Homo sapiens: one gene and its partner. The protein of the gene in region 2 interacts with the protein of the main gene of each other region in a pairwise test. Each region holds a gene or a part of one and is shown on either strand. Other genes may lie near its edges. The genes, in order: MC4R and NPC1.

The links.
Region 1: the proteins of NPC1 (region 2) and MC4R interact in a two-hybrid assay, tested with the Homo sapiens proteins (one large-scale study listed by BioGRID and IntAct).

The regions. Positions count from the first base shown.
Region 1 is NC_000018.10:60,370,321-60,374,002, forward strand, and holds MC4R (melanocortin receptor 4), read right to left. Parts: upstream 2,456-3,682; 5' UTR 2,030-2,455; coding exon 1,031-2,029; 3' UTR 742-1,030; downstream 1-741.
Region 2 is NC_000018.10:23,534,507-23,538,328, forward strand, and holds part of NPC1 (NPC intracellular cholesterol transporter 1 precursor), read right to left. Parts: intron 2,371-3,822; coding exon 2,167-2,370; intron 1,195-2,166; coding exon 963-1,194; intron 54-962; coding exon 1-53. UniProt on the Homo sapiens protein: Intracellular cholesterol transporter which acts in concert with NPC2 and plays an important role in the egress of cholesterol from the endosomal/lysosomal compartment.

The DNA of each region.
Region 1 (3,682 bases), about 37 Mb from region 2:
GCTATGAATTTGGTTTTGAAGTTTAAAATCCTTGATAATCAACATTTGTACTCCAGTTCAAAAAATCAGCAATAAGTAAACAGCAAGTCATTTTCATGTGAAATGAGAAAGAATTCGATGTCAGTCCTGTACTTCTCTAGAAACAGGAAGCTAAATCTCTCAGTACAATATTACCTTTTCTGGACACTTCAGCAGACCCTGAATCCTTGTTTAAAGGGGGCATAAATCCCCATTCTCTGTTTTATTAATATTGTTTAGGGATAATTTGGTAACAGGAAATTTAGCTTGACATGGCAACTTAGGTTTTCCAGGACACTTTCATCCCTATAGCTGCCTTTTCCCACCCACCCCAAACCGAATTGCCTGTGTGAAATATCAGGCTGTTTGCTAAGGGAGATGAATCTTTCTGTGTCTGAGAAGTACACATAGTTTTCTAACTCAGCATCTCTCTTTTTTCAGCACCTGTTTTTCTCTCTAGAGGAGCTTCATTTCTACTTCTGCACAGGGAGGATGAACAAACCTTTAATTAAATTACTTGAAATTTCAGTGATGATATTTTTAAAAATGATTATACATCTATTCTTTAAATATTTTCCCTTAACTGCTAGAATGAACTCTCTACATTTCAATGGTGGATAATATAATATAATAAAGCATTTATTAGAATATGTTTAATGAGGCTCTGATTTCTATGTTACGAAAGCACGCAAAGTGTCCAATGCTTATGAATAACACGAAGGAGACATTGTTAAGCTTTTAATAAGGACTTTTCTTTTTGTAAATCCACAGTGCCTACAACCTATAACATAGATTCATATTTTATGGCCAAAAAAGTAGCATGACATTGGAAATAATACAGAGACTGGGCATTTTTTCTCATTAAAAATCATAGGCTTAAATTTACACAATGGATATTCTCAACCAGTACCCTACACGGAAGAGAAAGCTGTTGCAGAAGTACAATATTCAGGTAGGGTAAGAGTGAAAAAGTCTCTTATGCATGTTCCTATATTGCGTGCTCTGTCCCCATTTAATATCTGCTAGACAAGTCACAAAGGCCTCCCAGGGGATAGCAACAGATGATCTCTTTGAAGGTTTTCCTCAGTTCTTGACTCCGGAGTGCATAAATCAGAGGATCGATGATTGAATTACACATGATCAGTATGAGATACAAGTTAAAGTGAGACATGAAGCACACACAATATGGATTCTGAGGACAAGAGATGTAGAATATTAAGTGGAGGAAGAATGGGGCCCAGCAGACAACAAAGACGCCAATCAGGATGGTCAAGGTAATCGCTCCCTTCATATTGGCACCTTGGCGGATGGCACCAGTGCCGGGGAGGACAGCAATCCTCTTAATGTGAAGCCTGGCCATCAGGAACATGTGGACATAGAGAGAAGCCATGAGAGCCAGCATGGTGAAGAACATGGTGATGAGGCAGATGATGACAGCACTACTATCTGAGTAAATGATGAACAAAATGCCTGAAACCGTGCAAGCTGCCCAGATACAACTTATGATGATCCCAACCCGCTTAACTGTCATAATGTTATGGTACTGGAGAGCATAGAAGATAGTAAAGTACCTGTCCACTGCAATTGAAAGCAGGCTGCAAATGGATGCAAGCAAGGAGCTACAGATCACCGAGTCAATGACATTATCAATATTCACTGTGAAACTCTGTGCATCCGTATCTGTACTGTTTAATAGGGTGATGACAATGGTTTCTGATCCATTTGAAACGCTCACCAGCATATCAGCCACAGCCAAGCTGCAGATGAAAAAGTACATGGGTGAATGCAGATTCTTGTTCTTGGCTATTGCCACAATCACTAAGATATTCTCCAACAAGCTGATGACACCCAGAGTCACAAACACCTCAGGAGAGACAAAAAGTTGCTCGTAGCACCCTCCATCAGAGTAGCCTTTTCCAAGGGACTCACTGGCATTGCTGTGCAGTCTGTAACTGCTGCGGTTCCAGAGGTGCAGAGAAGTGTGCATCCCACGGTGGGTGGAGTTCACCATGCTGGCAGGAGAATTCCAGTGTCCCCCTGAATTGATTTAACCTCCTGGGTCAGGGAGTCGTCTCAGTTATTTCCTCCAAGTCTTTATCTGTCTGAAAGTTGTGAGGCTAAAATTGCCATGCCTGCTGTGAGTAAATGTCACAAGTCCAGAGCTTGACATGGAGTTTTTAGTCTCTTTTAGGTACGACTCTAATCATCATCACTTTAAAATCTTGGGCTTCAAAATATTCATTCTCAGTTGAAAGAGTCTGCTCTTTGCTTTCTTGTTCTCACTTCTGCTTTAACTTTAATCTTATGCATTCAAGTCTGTTCAAAATAATTTTCCTTGAAGCTGCCATGCCATTGGGAGACGAATCTGTGCGCACATGCTCACATCGGCTGCCTCTCGGAAGCTTCTGTTTCCAGCCTGAGCGTTGCTTTGAGTGTTAGGGGCTGTAGGCGCCAGCTGCTGATTTTTATGATGTGTGGAGAGAAAAAAAACATGTTCACGGTGGCTCCTCCTCTGCTTCCTTCTGACCAATCCCAATGCAATGGGAGTCTGTGAGACAGGATTATGTTTCAGAGACACAAATTGCAGGGTGACACAGATTCAGATGCAGAAGCTCCTGAAGTCTGAAGTCGAGAAGCAAGCCGGATAAGAGACTGAATTTCCCTTTTTAAGTTTTCAAGGGAAACAACTTGATCCCTAGAGGCCATTCTGTGATATCAAAACAAGCTATCTTCAGGCAGCCAGGTTCATTCTTATGTAAAAGACATCATGTGTGTGTGTAAAATGAAATGGAAAGTATACTGTCTTATGTTCCTGAAACAGATACTCTGCTTTTTGGCTAGGATACTGAATTTATTTACCTTCTTAATTTTTTGTTTTTATTAAGAACCCAGCCAGTAGTGGTTCAGTTAAAATACCTGAAAAACAGAGAGGATATTTAATGATACAGATAGACATGGTATGGCTGGAAGAACTATGTAGGTAGCTATAAATTATGAATGGGTTCAAAAGGGGTTGATTTTAATGCACTAATATCCCATATTTCTCTATTGAGGAGTTTGTGTTATAGCTGAAAAAAGGTGCTTTTTATTTACAATATTTTAAACTCATACGGCATTAATGTAACTATGCTTACACTGAACTCAGGAAAATAATAAGCTGCATTCTGTTTTTTTTTTTTAAGCAACTTTTTTTTAAACCTCCAGAGTTTAACGTATCGTAAGTTGAACCGACAAATACCTAGTAACTTTACTTATCAAGCCAAGACTGGTGATACTAGTTAGTTATTGAAGTTTCTGAATATTTTGCTTAAGGTGGTTTGAAAGATGGCAGCAAAGTTACTTTCCAAATTAACTGAACAACAGATTATACAAAATTTTGTATATTCTTTTCTTCTATGATTATTTTTGGTTTTAGTGCTCTATAGTTTGTAGCTGCTTATTTCAGGGTTAATTCTGAATCTCAGTTACTTAGGTTGGGAATGTATCCTCTTTCCTTTTGTGACAGAGACAATACTAAGTATTGTTCCTGAGCATTGAGATAAATTAACGTCTTCCATCCACCTTTGGAATTGGGTAGGACCTTATGACTAAATTCTAGCTAATGGCATGTTGACAGTGGGGCTCATCGCATTAGCTCTTTCATAATTTTACACAAGTTTTCTCT
Region 2 (3,822 bases):
ACCGTGAACGCTCTGGTTATGTGGCTGCAGAACTCCACGGAGATGCCACAGCTCTGAAATAAAGCACTTCCTTTAGGATGGCTCTCTTCCTGTTGAAGACCCTAGGCAGCCACCCCGTTCTGAGGATGGGTGCTAATTACCCAGGGCACCCTGGGTGCTAGAGGAGGCCAAGCATCCCATTGGACTTACAAGGCCTCCATCACACCAATCTTACTGTACCAGGAACTTTTTGGGGCCCTCTCTACACACAGCCAAAAGCCTGGTTTTCTGTGGCACGTTTGTGTTGACCAGGAGAAATTGCTGGAACCCGTTAAGGTCACCCCACCCGCACCGAGCTGGCGCATTGTCACAACTTCTTTTCTTGGACCTCAGTGCTCCCCTATCTGAAGCAGGGCTCATATCTGAGAGTACGGATACACTGTTCTATTTTCCATGAATACCTTCTCAAGTGCTCTCATCTTTAATGATTAAAAGTACCTGATAACCACATAGGAGGCAAAAGGCACTGGTCGGAGAGCTCCTGGGGCGGGGTGCAATTTTCTAAGTAAAAAGTGAACATCCTGCTGTCATCAGGCTACAGGCTTGTGCAATCTCTAAAGAATAACAAATTACAGGCAGACTAGCCCAGAACTAGGCCAGGAAATCACATTTCCATGGTCAGAGGCACCATCAGGTATACTAGTATAGCCGCAAGGAATGGGACAAGAGAAAAAATTGAACAGAAATTGCCTGTAATGTGCCTATGCTCCCAGATGTCCAACTCAATGCTCGCTCCCTCTATGCCCTGTCCCACCACCATCCAGCACTCCTCCAGCACTCATCCTGCCTCTCCATGTGTGCCAAGAGCAAGCGCCAGACTTGGTATCTTACTCCATCTTTAGGGTTTACATGGAATCTAAGACAGCCAATTCCCCCAAGTGAAACAGGAGCTAGGGACAAACTGAGACTGTATGAGGACTCACCATCACCAGGTTGACCAAGGATACAGCGTTCAGACTGATGCCCCAGAGCCACATAACTCCAAACATGTTGACCAAGACCATGGCGATGGTGGCACACATGATGACTGCAGACCAGAGCTCACAGCCCAGGAGGACCATGGTCACCAGAAATATCGCGCCCAGGGACACACCGAGGTTGAAGATAGTGTCGTCAATGATGGTCAGGTACTGTTCGTAGAAGACATAAAACACACTGGAGGGGAGAGGGGAGGCCTCATTAAAGCTCGCTCTCACTCCCGAACACTGCGTGTTCATCCTGTCACCACTGCCAAGTGGTCAGACTCCTTTGGGAAACATCCCTTGCAGAAAACCTTGCTGGCTGTCTACAAGACTCACCGAAAGCAACTCACTTGACCTCTCATGGCCACTGACCACCCAGAGAAGGGCCCAGCAGTGATGCAAAATGTATATTTTTGATAAAGTTTCTGTTTATAAGCCCAATCTATGCTATTTTATAGACATTTACAGAGAGCATTCCACAGCATTCTGAAAAAACACAAAAAAACAAAGAATCCTGATCTATCCTGAGACACTACCTCAGGCTCAGCGGGGTCCGTGCAAGGCCTGAGGAAAACATGCTTTCATTTATTTTCTGCCAGAGCTAACCGGCTCTTAACTTCTTCCAAACAAATCCAGGCCTTCCTGCTTTAAGCGAGATCATGGGGAGGCAGGAAAAATAAATCACTTGTTTCTCCTACCTTTCTACAGTTTCTAAATTCAGTAGTTCATACATAATACTTTTCTTCCTGGGAAAAAAAACCCCTAACAATATAAAAAGTCTACATACAGGCAGCATCCCAAATAACCAGCAGTTAGGGATTCTGGTTCATTGTTGGCCAAGAATGTGGGCCGGGCCCTGCTCTGAGCCGCCTGCTCTCCAAGCGCCCCCTGCCTTAAGCCATTTTCCAGTGTGTGTCTCTTGCAGCTGTGCAGTGGCGCAGAGATCAAGTTTTGCGTCTCTAGCCCTCAGGCCTTCACAGAGACTTTAGATTCTGAACTCCTTTGCCCAGCACCCATTTCCTTTGATATACTGCCCTGTGCTCAGAATGGAGCAGGGGCCAGAACCCAACCTGAAAATCAGCATCTTGCCAAGGGAACCCTCCCCACTCCCACCCAGTGTAGGCCCTTTGCTGGGTAAACCCCATTGAAAAAGGGCAGGCTTTACCTGTAAGGAAATACTCGGTAGGCACTGCCGTTAATGCCCATGGTTTCGGTGACATTACTGGCTATAAGTCGGGCTTTCTTCAGAGCGTCAATAAAGTCAGCAGAGGTCTGCAGCACGGTGTGGTAGGTCATGAAGTACGTGGCTCCGACCCTGGTGCCATGGCCAAGGAGGATGTTAACTGCAGAACTATAGGCAGCATGTCCCCTGAGGAAAGAATCCTGGGTGTCAAGAGAGTCCAGGTCTTGCAAAATATCAGCAGAATCTGAGCACTTGAGGCTAAGCAAAATCACCTGACCCTGGACTCAGAGGTCAGACCCAGCTGTACATTTCAGGGATGAAGAAGGCCCCCAGATAAGGGAACACCAAAGGTTTAGCTTGTTCTCTCCCAGACTGGCTTCTTTTTTTTTTTATTTTGAGACAGAGTCTTGCTCTGTAGCCCAGGCTGGAGTGCAGTGGCGTGATCTCGGCTCACTGCAACCTCCACCTCCCGGGTTCAAGCAATTCTCCCTGCCTCAGCCTCCCGAATAGCTGGGATTACAGGCACCTGCCACCACGCTCAACTAACTTTTGTATTTTTTTAGTAGAGACAGGGTTTTGCCATGTTGGCCTGGCTAGTCTTGAACTCCTGAGGTGATCTCAGGTGATCCGCCCACCTCGGCCTCCAAAAGTACTGGGATTACAGGTGTGAGCCACTTCGCCTGGCCAGATGGGCTTTTCTCGATTGCTCTGGGTTCTTTGGTACATAGCTGCTGTTTCTCCACCTGGTTTCATGTATAATCAAAGGTACAGGGTTTACTCAGTCCTGTTGTGTAATAGGAAGCAGGAAAGGGCAAGGGCCCTGGGAACAACCTCAGCCCTGCCACTTACTGGTCATGTAACCCCGAGCAAAATGACCACCTCTGAGCCCCAGTCTCCTCTTCTGTAAATGGGTATACCACCACCTACTCATAGGCTGCGTGATGAGAAATGGAATAATGTCAGGGAGTGCCTGGCATGACGCTGGCACCCTGGAGGCTCCCCAGGAACGGTGGCTACTGCCTTCAGAAAAACTGAATCTACTTCAACTTATTTTACGTAGGCCAAAGCATCCAGTCAGTGAGTAAATCAAGCTGCAAGATTCATTTCTACTTAACTTTTAGGAGGAGTCATCCCATGATACCTCGAATAGGTCTCAAAGCACATGCATGATATAAATGATTCACTGATATGACTCTGGTCAGATGTATGTTCTTATGAAAAACCTAAGTTCAGGGTTTACCTAACATACATGGGGATACTCATCTTCCACCTCCCAAAGCTTCCAAATCAAGGCCAGAGACTTCCGGTCATCATCACTATTTTTGGGCCATATATCTGGCTTCCGTGGGTAACTGGCTGCCTGGCTGGATGGGGGAGTGAGATAGCCCATAACCCTATACATGGATGGGCTGGCAAGGAGCATGACGAGGCTAAAAGAATCGCAACCTTAATGTGGGATAATGTTACTAAAGCTAAGATCACGCCCCAGCTGCCATCAGTACAAGTGAACAGGCCAAGTTCCTTCAGGCCTGGATTACCAGCAGGCCGTCCTCTCCCTCAGCCCCGCTTGGAATGTGCACAGGAATCTGCGTTCATTCTCATGCCCAGGGGGCCAGGACACAGAGAGAGCATGAGATG